Regions from separate parts of the Homo sapiens genome. Here region 2 is linked to region 1. Evidence: fine-mapped expression QTL. Tissue or cell type: testis. Region 1 holds a variant in brackets; the other region holds the start of a gene. All regions are shown on one strand. Distances are from middle to middle.

What was found. PIP is the estimated chance that this variant, and not a neighbour inherited with it, causes the effect.
Region 2: KIAA0753 starts here. The variant in region 1 is fine-mapped to the expression of KIAA0753 in testis (GTEx, PIP 0.99).

What each region holds. Positions count from the first base shown.
Region 1 is chr17:6,575,852-6,583,938 of GRCh38, forward strand. KIAA0753 reads right to left here. Exons shown (of 19, transcript NM_014804.3): 19 at 2,296-4,013. The coding sequence ends at 3,896. Among named protein-coding and RNA genes, the nearest start is that of PITPNM3, 23 kb to the left of the region's middle. The variant G/T (reference allele first, on the strand shown) is at 4,735.
Region 2 is chr17:6,636,229-6,644,331 of GRCh38, forward strand. KIAA0753 reads right to left here and starts at 4,483. Exons shown (of 19, transcript NM_014804.3): 1 at 4,409-4,483. TXNDC17 (thioredoxin domain containing 17) reads left to right here and starts at 4,832. Exons shown (of 4, transcript NM_032731.4): 1 at 4,832-4,999; 2 at 5,525-5,606; 3 at 6,021-6,096; 4 at 6,723-8,103. The coding sequence starts at 4,855. The coding sequence ends at 6,791. It overlaps MED31 (mediator complex subunit 31), which reads right to left. Exons shown (of 4, transcript NM_016060.3): 4 at 7,083-8,103. LOC122526780 reads right to left here and starts at 4,088. Exons shown (of 1, transcript NM_001396008.1): 1 at 552-4,088. The coding sequence starts at 4,088. The coding sequence ends at 552. RefSeq lists enhancers at 533-1,315, 1,316-2,097, 3,042-3,111, 4,010-4,891, 5,022-5,291 and 1 more.

The DNA.
Region 1 (8,087 bases):
AGCTGTGACAAGGTGGGGGGCTGGAAGGCAGCCTTAGTGGTGGGAACGGATGGACCTAACTCCAGGCCACAGGCAGAAGTCCAGTTGGATGGATGGAAAGCGAGCCAGGGAAAATAGTAAAAGCCTGCAGGTCTGGTTCAAGGAAAGGATTTCCAGGTATATGAGGTCAAGAACAGCCAAGGGGACTCTAGGGAAAGCAGCAAATAAAGGATAAAGGGGTCATCTGGGAAGGCAGGTGCAGGCTTGGGGAGAAGACTGGGGAAGGTGGAGCAAGGTCCTGGACAGGCTGGCAAGAGGGGAACCCAGCACTGGAGCTGAACCGGGAGGGGAGCCCTGACTCCGGAAGCCAGCTGTGCACTCCAGGTCGGGGAATGATCCTGCTGGGTCTGTTGCCTGAGTTCACTTGGGCCTGACAACCAGCCCAGGGTCCCTATCTGGGATTTCCTGGGGCCCTTACTGAGGACTGATAGGAAGTACACAGGATGTCAGGTGGAAGCCCCTCCAATCCAGGCCCACGTTATTGGACTCAGTCAACATGCCAGTGTGGAAACAGATCTGAGATCTCGGCTCCTGAACTAATGGAGCTCAGTGGGGCAAGGCCACTGCCCTTCTGCTGCTCTTCAAGAGCCCAGAGAACCAGGAGCCCTTTCACAGGCTGGCCCCTCCCAAAGGTCACTTCTGTGGTGATCATAAGCCCATGATGATGTGGACACCCCTGAATTTACAGGCTCTGCAGGGAATTCTCACTACTGTCTCACGTTGCTAAAATAAAGAGAGCTCCTCTCAGAAACACAGAAGCGTGATGGAAACCTACACTGTCACAGAGAGCACAGGGGACTTTCTGACTTGGACCCTTCCTCTTGCTGTTGGCCCTGGGGCTTCCCTCAGGCCCTTCCTTCTGCCTTTCAGACCCACTGGCCACAGTGCAGTTCATGCCTCCACCTCCCCCACTCCCCCAACACACACACACACAAACACACTCGGACCACCTTCAGGAAAGCAGGAACCGTGAGCCCAGGGAGGAAGTGGAGTGAGGAAAGCGCTTCTCTCCTCACCATCTCTCCTCCAAACCCCAGCTCCGGCGGGCAGAGGGAGAAGGGACCACAGTGCTGAAATAGTAACAGAACACAAGAGGCAAGGGGCTCCCATGCACATCCTTCTGTCTTCTTCTCCAGTCCCTGGGCCGCCCCAGCTTAGTCCCCAGGAGCACCCTGACCAAGGCTCGCTCAAGGTCAGGAGCAGCATGAGGCTGAGGCCCATGCCCTGCTCTAGGAGGAAGGAAGCAAGTTCTTGCCATCTGAGCTGGAATTGCAATGGCAGCAGTACCTCCAAGATGGAATTATAGTTCTCAAATGGCATTCTATCTCGGGGTCACAAAAGGACATCATAGATTTCTGTGGACTATATGAGATGTGACAGACCCCCCCGTATAAAGTCAATCAGCCTGCCCTTCACCTTTCATTAATTCAGAAGAATTTACTGAGCACCAACTACAAGCTAGGCAGGGTCCCTGCCCTCAAGGAGCTAAACAGACTAGAGGTAAGCACAGAAACAGACAGAAATCCCGTGTGACCAAGCTGTGCCGGTGGAGCGCTCGGAGTGCATTTTCATGTCTCTGTACACTGGGGACGGCGTATGCAACACAAAAACACTGAACTCGTGTGTTTCTGCTTCTGAAATAGTACACGAATAGTTCGTGAGAAAGCTGAAGGGAATTACAGAATGATGTACGGTCAGCCCTTGTTCATGAAGAACAAAAAATTCTAGATGTCTGGGCTGGCTGCGAGGCGATAAACGGGAACTTTTATATTCTAAGGATTTAGCTTCCATTTGCAAAGAAAAATGTTTATTTCTTGCAGTATATTTTTGTGTCTTTGGAGAATGCTCTGGCTGTGGATGTTTGCGATGGGCCAGGGATATAAAGTTGACACCTGGACACTGGGGCTGGTTGAAGCTCCACCCACATGAGTCAGAGAAAGGCAGATCCACCTGGTGGGAGGAGCAGGAGAGAGTGGGAAGATCCTGAAACAAGGCAAAGCCTGGGCTCGGCCTTTCAGGACACAAGCTGCAACAGGAAGTGTGAGAATGGGACTGCCCCAGCACACGCCGAGTGGGGATAGGGAAAGGCAGGAAGATGAGCTCAGGTAAACTCCAAGTTTGTTTGGTCAAATTATCTCCTCCTGTGCCTCGTTTTATTCATCTATACAATGGGAACAATGATGCTCTCCACCTCACAGAGATGAGGTGAGGATTAAATAAGTTACTACATGGCAAGCACGGAGAGCAATGCTCTAGTAGGTGCTCAATAAATGTTAGCTTTTATTGTCACTAATTTTTTTCTCGGGGGGAAGGGGTGGCAAATAATCCACTATAGTCATATCACATATAAAAGTATTCTCAGTGGTTTCTGTAAATCACATTTCACTTTGCCTGTGGGAAAAAAAGGAGATGTAAGTTATTTAAAATAGGCACATACTTTAAAATATTGGGTTTATTTTAAAAACTCAGCACAGTACAAACTGCCACACAAATTACTTTATACTAGCAACAACCGGTGCTCCTATTAATTCAAGTGTACACATTTAACTCCCCAGGTTAAACACCCTGTAATTTACCTTGAAGCTCTTTACATTCTGAAGTTATATAAAATTAAGCAGGAAAACATTAACATTAAATGAAAATCAATTTTGCACAAATAAGTGTGATCAAGCAGCTTAAATCACCTGAAATTCTTGTACTTCAGAGAAAAATCCCAGATGACGGCACTGGACAGGTTATAAAGAGTTCCCTTATTCCCTGGGGGCGTCTCAGGCATTCTTTCTGCATGTTTCCTTCACTGAGCCTCAGGCTACGAATTGAGAGAAAGTCTTTCCAGGCAGTGGCCTGATTCTTACGCACATTCCGTTTCTTTTTCTGAATTCAGAGTTTCTGAAAACACAGGCTTTTCTCTTGGAAAACATGATCTGTAAGATGTTGGAGGACCAGGCTATGATGGTTCTTAAGTTTCTTCCTTTCTCTGGGGAGACACAGAGGTCTTCGCGCCATCCATCTGTTCCCTACTCCCACTTGGGTTCCTTTGTGGTATGAAATAGAGACACTTCTGACCTCATCGGAGACACAGCGAGGTCTGTACCTTCACCCAGGCACAGGAGAAGGCCTGGTCCTCTCCTGATTCCTCAAACTTCCTCTGAATCCAGAGAAAGTTTTTTATACCAGATTGTGTCAACACACAGCAATAAAATATGCTGAGGAACTAAAAATGTGAAAATCACCTAGGAATGGAACGTTGAAGAAATGTGTGTCTATTATTGTGCACTGACAGCCAGGGGGCTCCTGTTTGGAATAAACTGCAGCAGAGGAGAGGTTTGGCAGCACAGCCAGACTGTGCTCTCCCTGAGTCTACAGCCTAGTAGGGCCAGAGGTCCTGACAGGAAATCGCCAAAGATGCAAAACAGGGGCCCCGTGATGGGACCAGCTAGTAGCCGCACTTGTGTTGGTATCAATGCCAGCAAGGGTTCAACAGCAACCTGAATCCTTGTGTGAAATATACGTATCGATTATCTTTCAAAACATTTTCATCACCAAACTGAGCCAGAGGAATGAACATGGTATTTCAATAGGAAAAGTACACATTCTGAAAATATTGCCATAATCAAGTTGTGTTGCCTGGGCACTGATAAGTGTGATACATTGCATCATACATTTCCAGAACCATTGCCATGACAAAAGAAAATGCAAAGTGAGGATGACCTCCCCGGCACTGCCTTCCTTTCAGTGGGCAGCACCTTCTGGGCCTGGATGGACAGCTGAGGATGAAAATTTCCTGTGGGCCAAAACAAAGGGTGGTGCCATCCCTTCTCCAGTGTGACACAAATGGCCTCGCCTCAGAGAGCCTTTATGTAGCAGCCTCTAAGAATTCTGAGGTGAACACAGCTTCTGCATAATCTTCGCACATATCCTGAAGTTCAGCAGCCACAGCACCCAGAGCTTCATCTACCAGCTCTTCTGAAAAGCTGGAAGACAAACAACACAACTAAAGGTATGTACAAGGCCAGGCGCGGTGGCTCACACCTGTCATCCCAGCACTTTGGGAGGCCAAGATGGACAGATCACCTGAGGTCAGGAGTTTGAGACCAGCCTGGCCAACATGGTGAAACCCGGTCTCTACTAAAAATACATAAAATTAGCCGGGCGTGGTGGCATGCACACCTATAAACCCTGTTACTCAGGAGGCTGAGGCAGGAGAATCGCTTGAACCTGGGAGGTGGAGATTGCAGTGAGCAGAGATCACACCACTGCACTCCAGCCTGGGCAACAGAGTGAGATTCCGTCTCAAAATAAATAAAATAAAATAAAGGTATGTACAGCCATATATGGGAGCCATTCTTTTACTCAGCTGTGGAAATTAACAAGTCAATTCTGAAATCTAAATGGAAATTCAGAAGGCCAAGAACAGCCAAGATACTTTTTTTTTTTTTTTTGAGACGGAGTCTCGCTCTGTTGCCCAGGCTGGAGTGCAGTGGCACCATCTCGGCTCACTGCAAGCTCCGCCTCCCGGGTTCACACCATTCTCCTGCCTCAGCCTCCTGAGTAGCTGGGACTACAGGAGCCCGCCACCACGCCTGGCTAATTTTTTGTATTTTTTTAGTAGAGATGGGGTTTCACCATGTTAGCCAGGATGGTCTCAATCTCCTGACCTCGTGATCCGCCTGCCTTGGCCTCCCAAAGTGCTGG[G/T]ATTACAGGCATGAGCCACTGTGCCCGGCCAAGATACTTTTGAAGAAGAAAAACAAGGTGAGAGGCCCTGCTCTCCTAGACAGAAGGATGGTGGTGCTTAGATCCCAAAGTCCTGCTAGAGGGACAGGCCTAAAACATACACAGGATGGACTTCATCCTCAATGTGTTTGAAACCAGAGGCGACCAGAAACTAACCAGCTGCAACCTAGCCCCACCTCTAACAGCTGCCTGACCGGCCGACGGAGGAAGGGGTGTGCCTTCTCTGTAGGAGACGGGGGAGGACACTAGGGGACTCTGCACGGGTGCTCCTCTGTACACACACACACACACACACACACACACACACCTTCATTTTCTGAACGGCGCAAGCTTCGTATCTCCCAAGTAGCCCTACAAACAAGGACATTCTCTTAAATAACTATGGTACAATTATAACAATTATAAAATTAACATTGATACAAAACTAGTATCTATTCTACAGGCCTATCTATCTACAGGCCTTATTCAAATTTTGCCAACCATCCAAATAATTTCCTTCAAAAGAAATTTTTTGCTAGTCCAAGGTTCCAGTCTGGGATTCCATGTCGCATTTTGTTGTCACAGCTCTTTAGTCTACTGTAATCTAATAGTCCTTCAGTCTTTCTTTGCCTCTCATGACCTTAACATTTTTTAAAGAATAAAAGCCTTTTTTTGGGGGGGTGGGGAGAATATCCCTCAATTTGGGTTTTTTCCTTATGATCAGATTCAGGACATACGGTTTTGAAAGAGATGCCACAGAAGGATAGTGTGTCCCTTCAGTGCACCATGATATCTATTTGATATCCATTAATGATGTCAGTTAATTTTGCATCACTGGGTTACGGTGATGTCTGCCAGGTTTCTCCCTTGTAAAGTTACTGTTTTCCCCTTTGTAATTAATAGGTATAGTGGAGGGAGATACTTTGAGACTATGTAAACTCCTGTTTCTCATGAAATTCGCCTAAATCAATTATTACAGGGTTGCCAAACACGGATTTTCTACTTCCATCACTTCTTCTCCATTTAATAGCTGGCATTCTACTGTAATGAAAGCTTTCCCTTGTCTTTTACTTATGTATTCATTCCTATCAGTTTGGCCTTATAGATTTTTATTTTATTGTATAGTTTGTAATCCATTACTATTATTACATATTTCGATGCTTGAAAATGTCCTGGATTTGGCCCGTAGGTGCCTCTTGGGAACTCCTGTGAACTCTCGACATGTCCCCATCTTTCTTTGAGCACTTCCTTTCTAGCACAGTATGTCTGAGGCTTATCTTACATTTTTCCAGCCCCAGGCTTATAGTCAGCCATTCTTCCAAGAAGCCCTCGTGCCTCTTCATCTGGTGCCTCTTCATGGAGAACGGTATTTAGAAACCAAGATGTGGGTACTGGGTGTGCTCACTGCTACTGGCACCTCTGCTTCTGGGCCTTCTCAGCAGACAAACTAAGAAACACCCTGTATCTATTTCTACGTCTATAAAAAACCATATATTCATCCCAGCCTTCCCCTAGAAACCTTGCTCCCATTATTCACAATGTACTTACTTATTTGACCAATCCTAAAATATAGAGAAAATAGTTTTCAACTGTTAACCCATGTCACTGTATAAAAGAAACCTACAAACTAGAATCCAGTTATGTGTTTACAGTTCTTTTTGTCTTTAGCCAGAGGTAAAGAGTCAACATACTGTGTTCAAAAGTTATTTAGGCTTCATGCCGTTAATATGATTATATTATTTATTTGAAATACAGTTAAGTTCATGTTTCTGTTTGTATTCGACTTAAGGCCCCCGCCCCATCCCTGTTGACTAAGGGGATGTATAAGAAACATTAACATGGTTTCAAAAGTCAGAGTTACACAAAAATGGTAAATGCAGATAAGTTTCACTCCCCCTCTCCTATTCCTTCTACCCCATTCCCACCCAGTTTTTGTTTTTTCGCTAATCTGACAATCTTTTGTCTTTTAATTGGCATGTAAGGTCCTTTTTCATTTAATGTTATTCTGATTTGAGTTTATGCTTCTAAAATAATAGGCATTTTCTATATTTGTCTCTTTGTTCTCTCTTCTTTCTTGGTTTCCTTTAGATTTTGTAATTTTTAAACTACATTTGCTCTTCTCTATTGACTTGGACATTACACACACTTTTATGATTCTTTAAGTGGCCACCCTGGATTACAACAAGTATCCATGACTTGACGTCTAACATTAATTGATATTCTTACCTTTTTTCCCATACAATGCAAGAACCTTAGAATACGAACTCTATTCCCTTCCTGACTTATATTCTTACATACTATTGTTACTGTATATTTTAAACGTGTGAGTACACATACACACGCATCCATAAAACATCAGTATTGTTTCATACAGCCAATATTCACTTTAACCTACCTATTTACCTATTTTTAAAATTCATGCCTCCCTATATTTCTGACCTTCCATCTGTGACTGTTTTCTTTCTTCCCCCAAAATACCCTTTTTAATATTTCCTACAGTGAAGGTCTACTGCTAATTCAGCTTTGTTAAGAAACTCTTTTCTCACCTTGCCTTTTGATGTATCTTTCACTGGGCTTAGAACTCCAGACTGGTAGTTCTTTTCGTTTGGAATTTTAAAAGATGCCAGGTCTTCCAGTTTCCACTGTTTTTGTTTATCTTGATTTTTCTTCCTCCAGCCGATTTTAAGATTTTCTCTATCTGTGATTTTTCAGCAATATTGAGTATGGATTTCTTTTTATTTTCCTTGCTTGGGGTTTTTGGAGCTTCTTGAATCTACGGCTTGATGTCTTTTGCTACTCTGGGGAAGTGATGGCCATTATCTCTTGGGATGTTGTTTGTGACTCGTTTTCTCTCTCTCCTGACCTGAGATTCCAACAACACGTTAGACCTTCTTACCTCCTCTATGTCCCTTTCCCTCTCTTCTTCACTTTTCGTCTTTTTTTGTGTGTCTCCGGGAATCACTCTGGATATTTTCTTCTGTCCTATGTTCCAAGTCTCTAATATTTTCTTCTGTTGTGTCTAATTTGCTATTGAGCCCAACCAATGAATTCTTCATTTCAGAAACTTTATCTTTCATTCTAGAATGTCCATTTGGATTTTGTTTAGTTCCCAGTTCTATGCCAAAGTTCTAATTCATGTCTTTTATTTCTATGAATGCACTAGGCACAGTTATTTTAATGTCTGTGTCTGATAGCTCTAATGTTTGTATCTGCCGTAGGTCTGTTCTTGGTATTGTCTTGTCCCTCTGTTGCCTGGTTATTTTTCACCATATACTAGACAATGTATTCAACAGTCGTAGAAATAAATTGATTTCTAAGATGATGTTATTTTCCTC
Region 2 (8,103 bases), 60 kb after region 1:
AGTCCTTATTTCTAAGGCTGTAGCACACATGAAAAAAGCAGATGGGAGGAGGCACATGAGCAAGGCAATCCCAACTGGCTTGACGTTGGCACAGGTGGGTGGCTGGAGTTGCAGAATGAAGGCTGCAGAAATGGGGCCCGGAGATCTGCCACTTTTAAATGGTCAGTACTTCCCTCCTGGCTGCTTCTAGGTGCCAAGGGCCAAATAGTCCATTCTCCACTAGAAAAAAACTAGGTGATCCCCACAGTTCCAGCATGCCTCAAGTGATGCTACACACACACATACACACACACGCACAAAGTCCAGGGACACCCACCCCTAAACTGTCCCCCTGTACAAAGTTCTGGGACTCTCCTTGCAATCTGGCCCTTTCCCACTGCTCCAGGAAACGTCCCAATTTGTCCCTCTACATACCCTGGGGCATCTCCACGAAAACCCTCTCTCCCCCATGCTGAGATGCCCTTACAGCCAGTGCCTTCATCCGCAACCCATGACAAACCTACCCCGAACCTGTTCCCTCCCACACAGCCCCAACTTCTTCCCTACACACACTACTGGAACGCCCCCCTCAATCTAGCCTCCCCCACATAACTCTCTCCCAAATTGCTCCCTCTCACTCTGACTGCAGACACTCCTCCAGCCAGCCTCCTCCCACTTGGCTGTAGGTGGTCTCTGAAATGGCCAAGGCCTATTTCCTCCCTTGAAACTGAGGGTACCCCCACAGCTGTTCTTGTCCCTGACATGCCTAGAGCATTCTCATAGGCTGTTTCTTCCCCCAAAGACCTTGGACAGCTCCATAACCTGGCCCCAGGCACACAGGTGTGAGATGTCCCCACAGCCTGGCTGCCCCCGGCCAGTCCCAAAATATTCCCACCTCCTGTCTCATCCTCTGAAGCCCCCACTCCCCCTGTGGACTGTCTCCTCAGCACGGTCAGACCTGAGACACCCACGTCCGCTTCTGCTCCTGAGGACCCAGTCACCCACACCGCAGCAGGCGCACGCCCTGCCATGGGAGCTCCTACAGCTGCAAGCACCCCCAGAGGCAGAGGCACCCTCCCGGCCTCGGGAATGGCTCCACCGTGTCTCCTTCTCCACAGGCCTGAGACACCTTCAGAGCCTGTCTCCCCCTCCACAGGTCCAGGAACCCTGGCAGCTGTGGGCCCCTCAGTGGCCAGTCTCCTTCCCCATATGCCTGAGCCGTCATCCCCAGAGCCCGTATCCCCTACCATTGGCCCTGGAAGCCCGGGAGCTGTGGGCACTCCCACGGCCATGGAACCTCTAGCAGCCACAGGCCTCCCAGCAGTCTGCCTTCTTCCAGACAGGCCAGAGACATGCTCAAAGATGGTCCCCTCCCCCACAGACCCCAGCAGCCCCACAGCCATGGACACTCCTGTAGTCTGTCTGCCTCCCAACAAACCTGAGACACCCCCAGAGCCAGTCTTCTCCGCCATGGGCCCAGGCATCCTGGTCGAGGTGGGCACCTCCATCCTTGTGGGACCCTTGGCATCTGCAGGTCCGCCCACTGTCTCTCTTTCACCCCACAATTCTGAGCCAGTTTCCTCTTGCACAGGCCTAGGCACCCTGGGAGCCACGGGCACCCCACTAGCTGCAGACAGCCCCACAGTGCCAGGCATTCCTGCAGTTTGCTGCCTCCCTGACAAGCCTGAAAAGCCTCCATCACCAGGCTCCAGCTCCACAGAACCAGGCACCCTAGGAGCCAGAAGGACTTCGGTGGCCACAGGAGCCCTGACCCTCTGTCTCTGTCCCCAGGGTCTTGGGATACCCCCAGAGTCAGTCTCCCCCCCAAGCCCAGGCCCCTCAGGCACCACAGGAACCCCAATAGTCTGTCTCCTCCCCCATGGGCCCGGGAAGGCCCCAGAACCACAATCCTCCCCGCCAGACCACAGCTTCTCCCGAGCCACGTGTCCCCCTGAAGCCACGGATTCCTCCCCGCCTGACCACAGCTCCTCCTGAGCCACGGGTCCCCCTGAAGCCACGGATTCCTCCCCGCCAGACCACAGCTCCTCCCGAGCCACGGGTCCCCCCGAAGCCACAGATATTCTGGCAGCCCGAGTCCTTTCCCACAGGTTCAAAATGTCTCTAGAGCTGCCTTCCTGACACACAGGACCAGACGCCCACACAGCAGCAGGCACTCTGGCAGGCACCTTTCCAGAGCCGGGCACACCCATTGCCATGAGGACCCCTGCTGCGGCACACCCCTGCCGGGGCACATCTGCTGCCCTGGGTATGCCCACCGTCTCAGACACCCCCACAGCCTGCCTCCTCCCACACTGACATGCAACATCTCCACAGCCAGCCTCCTGATCCACTGACCCAGGGACCCCTAAAGCTGGAGGCCCCAGACTCTCTGGCTCCCCCACAGCCTGCCTCCTTTCCCACGGGCTCAGAACATTCCCACTACAGGTCTCCTCTCCAAGCCCAGGCACTGCCTCGGCTGGGGGCCCCCCAAGAGCTTGCTGTCCGTCCCACAGGCCCAGGCCCCCGCTGTGGCTCAGCTCTTCTCCCAGGGCTCCAGGTACCACCACAGCCTGGGGCACCCTTACCATCTGTCCCGCTCCCCACAGCCCTGGGACACTCACACAGCCCGTGTCCTTCCCCAAGGCCCTGGGTACCCCTGTAGCCTGTTGTATCCCCCACAGGCCTGGGGCACCCCCAGAACCTGCTGCCTGCTCCCCAGGACATGATGACTCTGCAGTCTGCGCAGCTCCCCGTGACCCTGGATCACCCCCAGAGCCTGTCTCCACCCACACAGGCTGTCCCCTTTCCCTGAACCCTGGGTCACCTCCACATCTAGTTTCCTCTTCAGCAGCACAGGGCACCCCAACAGAGTATCCTGTGCCCCACGGGCCGGGCATACCCACAGAGTCTGTCTCCTCCACAGCCTGTCTCCTGTAACACACACCTGCGGCACCCACAGAAGTAGGCTCCTCCTCCACAGCATCGGACACCCCCACAGCCTGTCCCCTCCCCCATACGCCAGGGGTGGCCCCACAGACTGCTTCATGTGTCAGAGCCCCAGGAATCTGCGGGGACTGTCCTCTCCCCCACAGACCTGCAGCACCGCCACAGCCGAGCTCTCCCTCCATGGCTCTGGGCGCTCCCACAGCCCCAGTCCACCCCACGGTCCCAGGCTCGCCCATAGTCTGTTCTTTTTCACAAGGGCCTGAGACAAACCCATAGCCTATCTCCTCCCCAGTCTCAGGAACCCCCACAGCTTCTCCCCTCCACAGGTGCGGGGCCATTTCAGAACTTGACGCCAAAGCCCCAGGCACACTCGCAGGAGGCACCCTCCCAGCCTGTCCCTGTCCACAGAAGCCTAAGGCTCTCTCGTAAGCTGCCCCTAAGCCCAGAGCTGTGGGCCCTGAGGGGGCCCGAGGGATCCCCCTTGCCTGTTCCTTCACCCAGGGCCCTGTAAGACCGCCGCGGCTTGTCTCTACCCAGGAAGCTCGGCCAGGAACACCCCTTTCGACAGGTCCCTCTCCTGCAGGCACGGGATGGAGCTCGACTCTACTTCCTTCCCCACATCCCGAGGCGGCCCTCATAGCCTGCACCTTCAGCCACAGGTGCAGAATGCTCTCATGGCCCAGAGATCCCGGGCGACCTTTTCTCTCGCAGCCCCGGGGACTTCTATCTTCGGTCTCCTCCTCCCCAGACCCGGTCACCCACACAGCCCCGGCAAGCCCCACCACCTCGGGCTCCCCCACAGCCCCGTTCACCCACACAGCCCCAGGGTCCCTTGCAGCCTCGATGGAGCCTGGGGTCCCAGGAGCTCCCAAAGCCTCATTCGCCCCGGCGGCGTCGGCTGTCTCCGCCGCTTGTCTCGTCCCCCATGGCCGCTGACGGCCCTGTGGCCTTTCTGCACTCACACAGCGCGTCTCCCACTCCGAGGGCTTCGCCCGGCGCCTTGCTCCACGGCCTCGGGACGTCCCTGCGCCCCGTCTCTTCCCCCACGGCCGCCGAACCCCCCGCCCCGACCTGCTGGGCCCCACGCAGCGACCCGGCATCTTAGCCGCCTGCTCTCCCCGGCGCAGCCTGGGCAAGGCCCCACGGCGAGTCTCCCGGCTCATAGCTCCAGGGCAGTTCCCTTCCTCCCTACCGCGGCCCTGGGGGATGTCTTAGCACCTCGCTCCCTAAGCTGCTCCACACACGCACTCACACACTCCGCTCCGGCCTTGCAGCCTTTCTCCCTCCGAGCCCCTCACCCATCCCACCCCCGCCCAGTCTCGGGAACCCGCCCCCAGTCCCAGGCCCCCGTAAAGCCTAGACGGCAGAAAAGGTAACTGGGGGGACAAAGCAACAAAGGCTTTCCGAGTCAGATCTCCTCTCCCCCAAGTCCATGACTCTATGCGGCTTCCCAGAATCCCCCCCAGCCCCGGCCCGAGCCCACCTGGCCTAGGGTGAGGCGCGGCTACTGGGAGGCGGGCAACGGGGGCCCCCAACAAGGCCGCGCTTCCGGCCGCCTGCCCAGTCGCCATAGCAACAGGCGCAGGGCGGCTTGGGAGCCTTTGAGGCCCTGAACTATTTAAGGATCCAGGTGTTGCAAGGCGGTAAGTTTTGCAGCCAGTGTCCATGAGGTCGGGGCTGGGACTAGATTAGGGTAGATCTAAGCCTGGGCTTGGGAGTGCAGCTAGCGCAGAAAGATCTGAGGAACTAGAGCAAAAAGCCATGCGGATGGATTGTGGTCGTCAGAGGCTCCCGTAGTCTTTAGCGGCGCTGGCTTCCGCAGGCTCCGCCCTCTCTTGCCCACCCGGAAACAGCCTCGCCCCGCCTACGCGGGACCCAACCGCGGCGACCGGACGTGCACTCCTCCAGTAGCGGCTGCACGTCGTGCCAATGGCCCGCTATGAGGAGGTGAGCGTGTCCGGCTTCGAGGAGTTCCACCGGGCCGTGGAACAGCACAATGGCAAGACCATTTTCGCCTACTTTACGGGTTCTAAGGACGCCGGGGGGAAAAGCTGGTGCCCCGACTGCGTGCAGGGTGAGGCCGGGATTCGGGGGCTGCTGTCCAATGGAAATGGCAGGAAGGTCGAGCCTACGGCCAGAAGGGGGGCTTAGCGGAGGCAGAGTCTTGGTTCCAGACATCCGCGGAGCAATCTGAGCTGTCCCCAAGTCTCCTTCTATTAAATCCTACCCCGCCCTGCCAAGAGCGCTCTTCCTTTTACCACCTTACCCGGATGATCTTGGAATCTAGTTCCTTAAAACTTCTCACTCCCCCAGTACCATTAGTGTCTTACAGGATACGTGAGTTGGTCAGCAAATACATGTGCTTTCCATTGTTACGGGCGCGGTGGTGCAGGGGCAAATCGGGACTGGGATTTGGTCCTTACCCTTAACGTGGCTCTAAGACCAGAAGGGAACACCTGACTTGTGTTGACCTCTTCAGTTAGCTGCAGGTTAAAGTCTGAGTGCTTACCAAGACTGGGGGAAGGGGGAAAGAACACAGTTTATACGTGCCTGATTGTAGAGTTGACGTGCGATTATTTTATCTCAACTTTTTTTAAAGCTGAACCAGTCGTACGAGAGGGGCTGAAGCACATTAGTGAAGGATGTGTGTTCATCTACTGCCAAGTAGGAGAAAAGCCTTAGTAAGTGGCAATGTATAATCTACCTCGCAGACGTGCACAAATTGCATACTTAGGCGGGAAGGGCCTCAGGGACTTACTTACCCAGTTTGTCTTACAAGGTAATGTCTGACAAGTTAAACAATTAGAAGCTATTAAATACAAATTTAAAATGCCCACCTGAATTAAGTAAGGGTAATTCAACGAATTTGGTCTGGTGTAAGCCCAGAACTTAGCTGGCTTTACTTTTATATCTTAGTCACACTTTGAAACTTTGCACAGGGTAATTAGTAGATTAAGCCATAGTCCGCAAGGTTTTTTAAGTGTTTGCAAGAACAGTGATTACTAAAAAATTAAATGTAGGACTATGTCAAATATTAAGCAAACTGTAATAAACCAAGTAAATTTTTTTCATGATCACTTTTTCTTTTCGAATAGTTGGAAAGATCCAAATAATGACTTCAGAAAAAACTTGAAAGTAACAGCAGTGCCTACACTACTTAAGTATGGAACAGTAAGTATCTTTAAATATGCTGGGCCTGTAATTCACTGTCAGAACTCTTTTAACTTGCTGTGGATCCAGATTTGAAAAGATCTTGACATTTCATCTCAATTCCATTGTTGTTCAGAGTGCTGCTGAAAGTCCATTCCTATGGCCAATCCCAATAAACTGATAATGTAAATATCTAGCTATTAGGTCTTTTTCATGTTAAGTCACTCTTAAAAAACCAGAAAGTAGGTTGACTCATAATTCCTTAAAACATTTGCATCAACAGTTGTTTTCTGTTTAATTCATAATTCTGGTTAAAAAGTAAGGGCATCTCTTCTAGTTCAGTCATGCCCCTGGGATCCTAAATTAAAGAGTTGAGGGGAAGAAGAGGGCACTGGGCTTGCTGTCTCCTGTTTTAGTCTGTGGAGCTTCCTGGTATTTGGGGTTTAAGTCTCTTGAGCCAAGTATGTTAGTGATTCATCTTACAGCAAATATATTGATTCTTTCATAAAACTTGTTATAACTAGATGATAGTTTCTGAATTGCGTAATTTCTGTGTTCAAAGATGAGTGTCATTCAAGGCAGAACTCATTCCACTCCTAATAACGTTTTATAGAAGTAGTGAAGATTTGACTGTTTTTCTCTTACAGCCTCAAAAACTGGTAGAATCTGAGTGTCTTCAGGCCAACCTGGTGGAAATGTTGTTCTCTGAAGATTAAGATTTTAGGATGGCAATCATGTCTTGATGTCCTGATTTGTTCTAGTATCAATAAACTGTATACTTGCTTTGAATTCATGTTAGCAATAAATGATGTTAAAAAAACTGGCATGTGTCTAAACAATAGAGTGCTATTAAAATGCCCATGAACCTTTAGTTTGCCTGTAATACATGGATATTTTTAAGATATAAAGAAGTCTTCAGAAATAGCAGTAAAGGCTCAAAGGAACGTATTCTTGAAGGTGACGGAAATACCTAAAAACTCCTAAAGGTGCAGAGCACACCTTCCAAATCTCTCAAAAGATCAGTATCTTTTATTTTAAGTTATCTCCATCTGCAAAGCAACTGATGATATTCCTGAAACCCCTTCTTTGATTTTGGAATGTAGAACCTAACCTCACCACTGAAGGAAAGCACATGACCTCTAATCTAGCCTCTGCTTAATTCAGGCAGTTTTGTTTTGTTTAATAAAAAACAGACTCCTGAGCACTAGAAGCAGTTTGTTTTGCAGCTGTCTCAATGTGCTTTACTTGGGATGAGGCAGGTGGCGGAGAGCGGCCGGAAAGACTCTATAACCCAGTTCTGGGAAGAACTCCAAGCTGGGAGTCAGTCACACTGACTCTACCACTTACTAGCTGTGTAACCACAGGCAAGTTACTCACCCCGTCCAAACCTCAGTTTTCTCTTCTATAAACAAGGTTCTTAGAATAAAATGAGAATTCAAGGAAGCACTTAACATAGCACCTGGTTTGTGGTACCTCCCAAATCAATGGTAGCTTTCCCAAATGAACACAAGTATTTGAGGCTCCTCATGTTTGTTCTAAAGTCAAGAGTCCAGTTAGTAACTAACCACTAGTTGTCCTGCCATGACTAGGTCAAGTGAGGCCACAGTGATTCAGTGATTCTTAAAGCCACCTTGCAAAGCAGGTAATACAGTTATTTCCTGTCCTGCAGAATTCAAGAACCTTTATGCAGTTCCTGTCCTATGATTTAAAGAGGTCAGTGACTCCGCTACTCTCACTACATCTTAGAGTAGAGTGGTAGAGTAGTTGATCTGAGACAGTAAGGTTCCAGGAGATGGTCTTGCCCTACTATATGTCAGGAACAGCTAGCCTTAGAATTCAGTATACTTGGTGGCCCACCCCTACCCCATGCCCCAGTGCCTTATTTGGTCTAAAGCACCTAACTTTTCCATTCTTAATCAGCTGATTATGCTAAATGCGTAAAAAAGAAAAACACCTTACAAATCCACAGGGAAATCAAAGAACAATTCAGGTTTAACAGAAATAGTCTATTAACAATAAAAAGTTGGA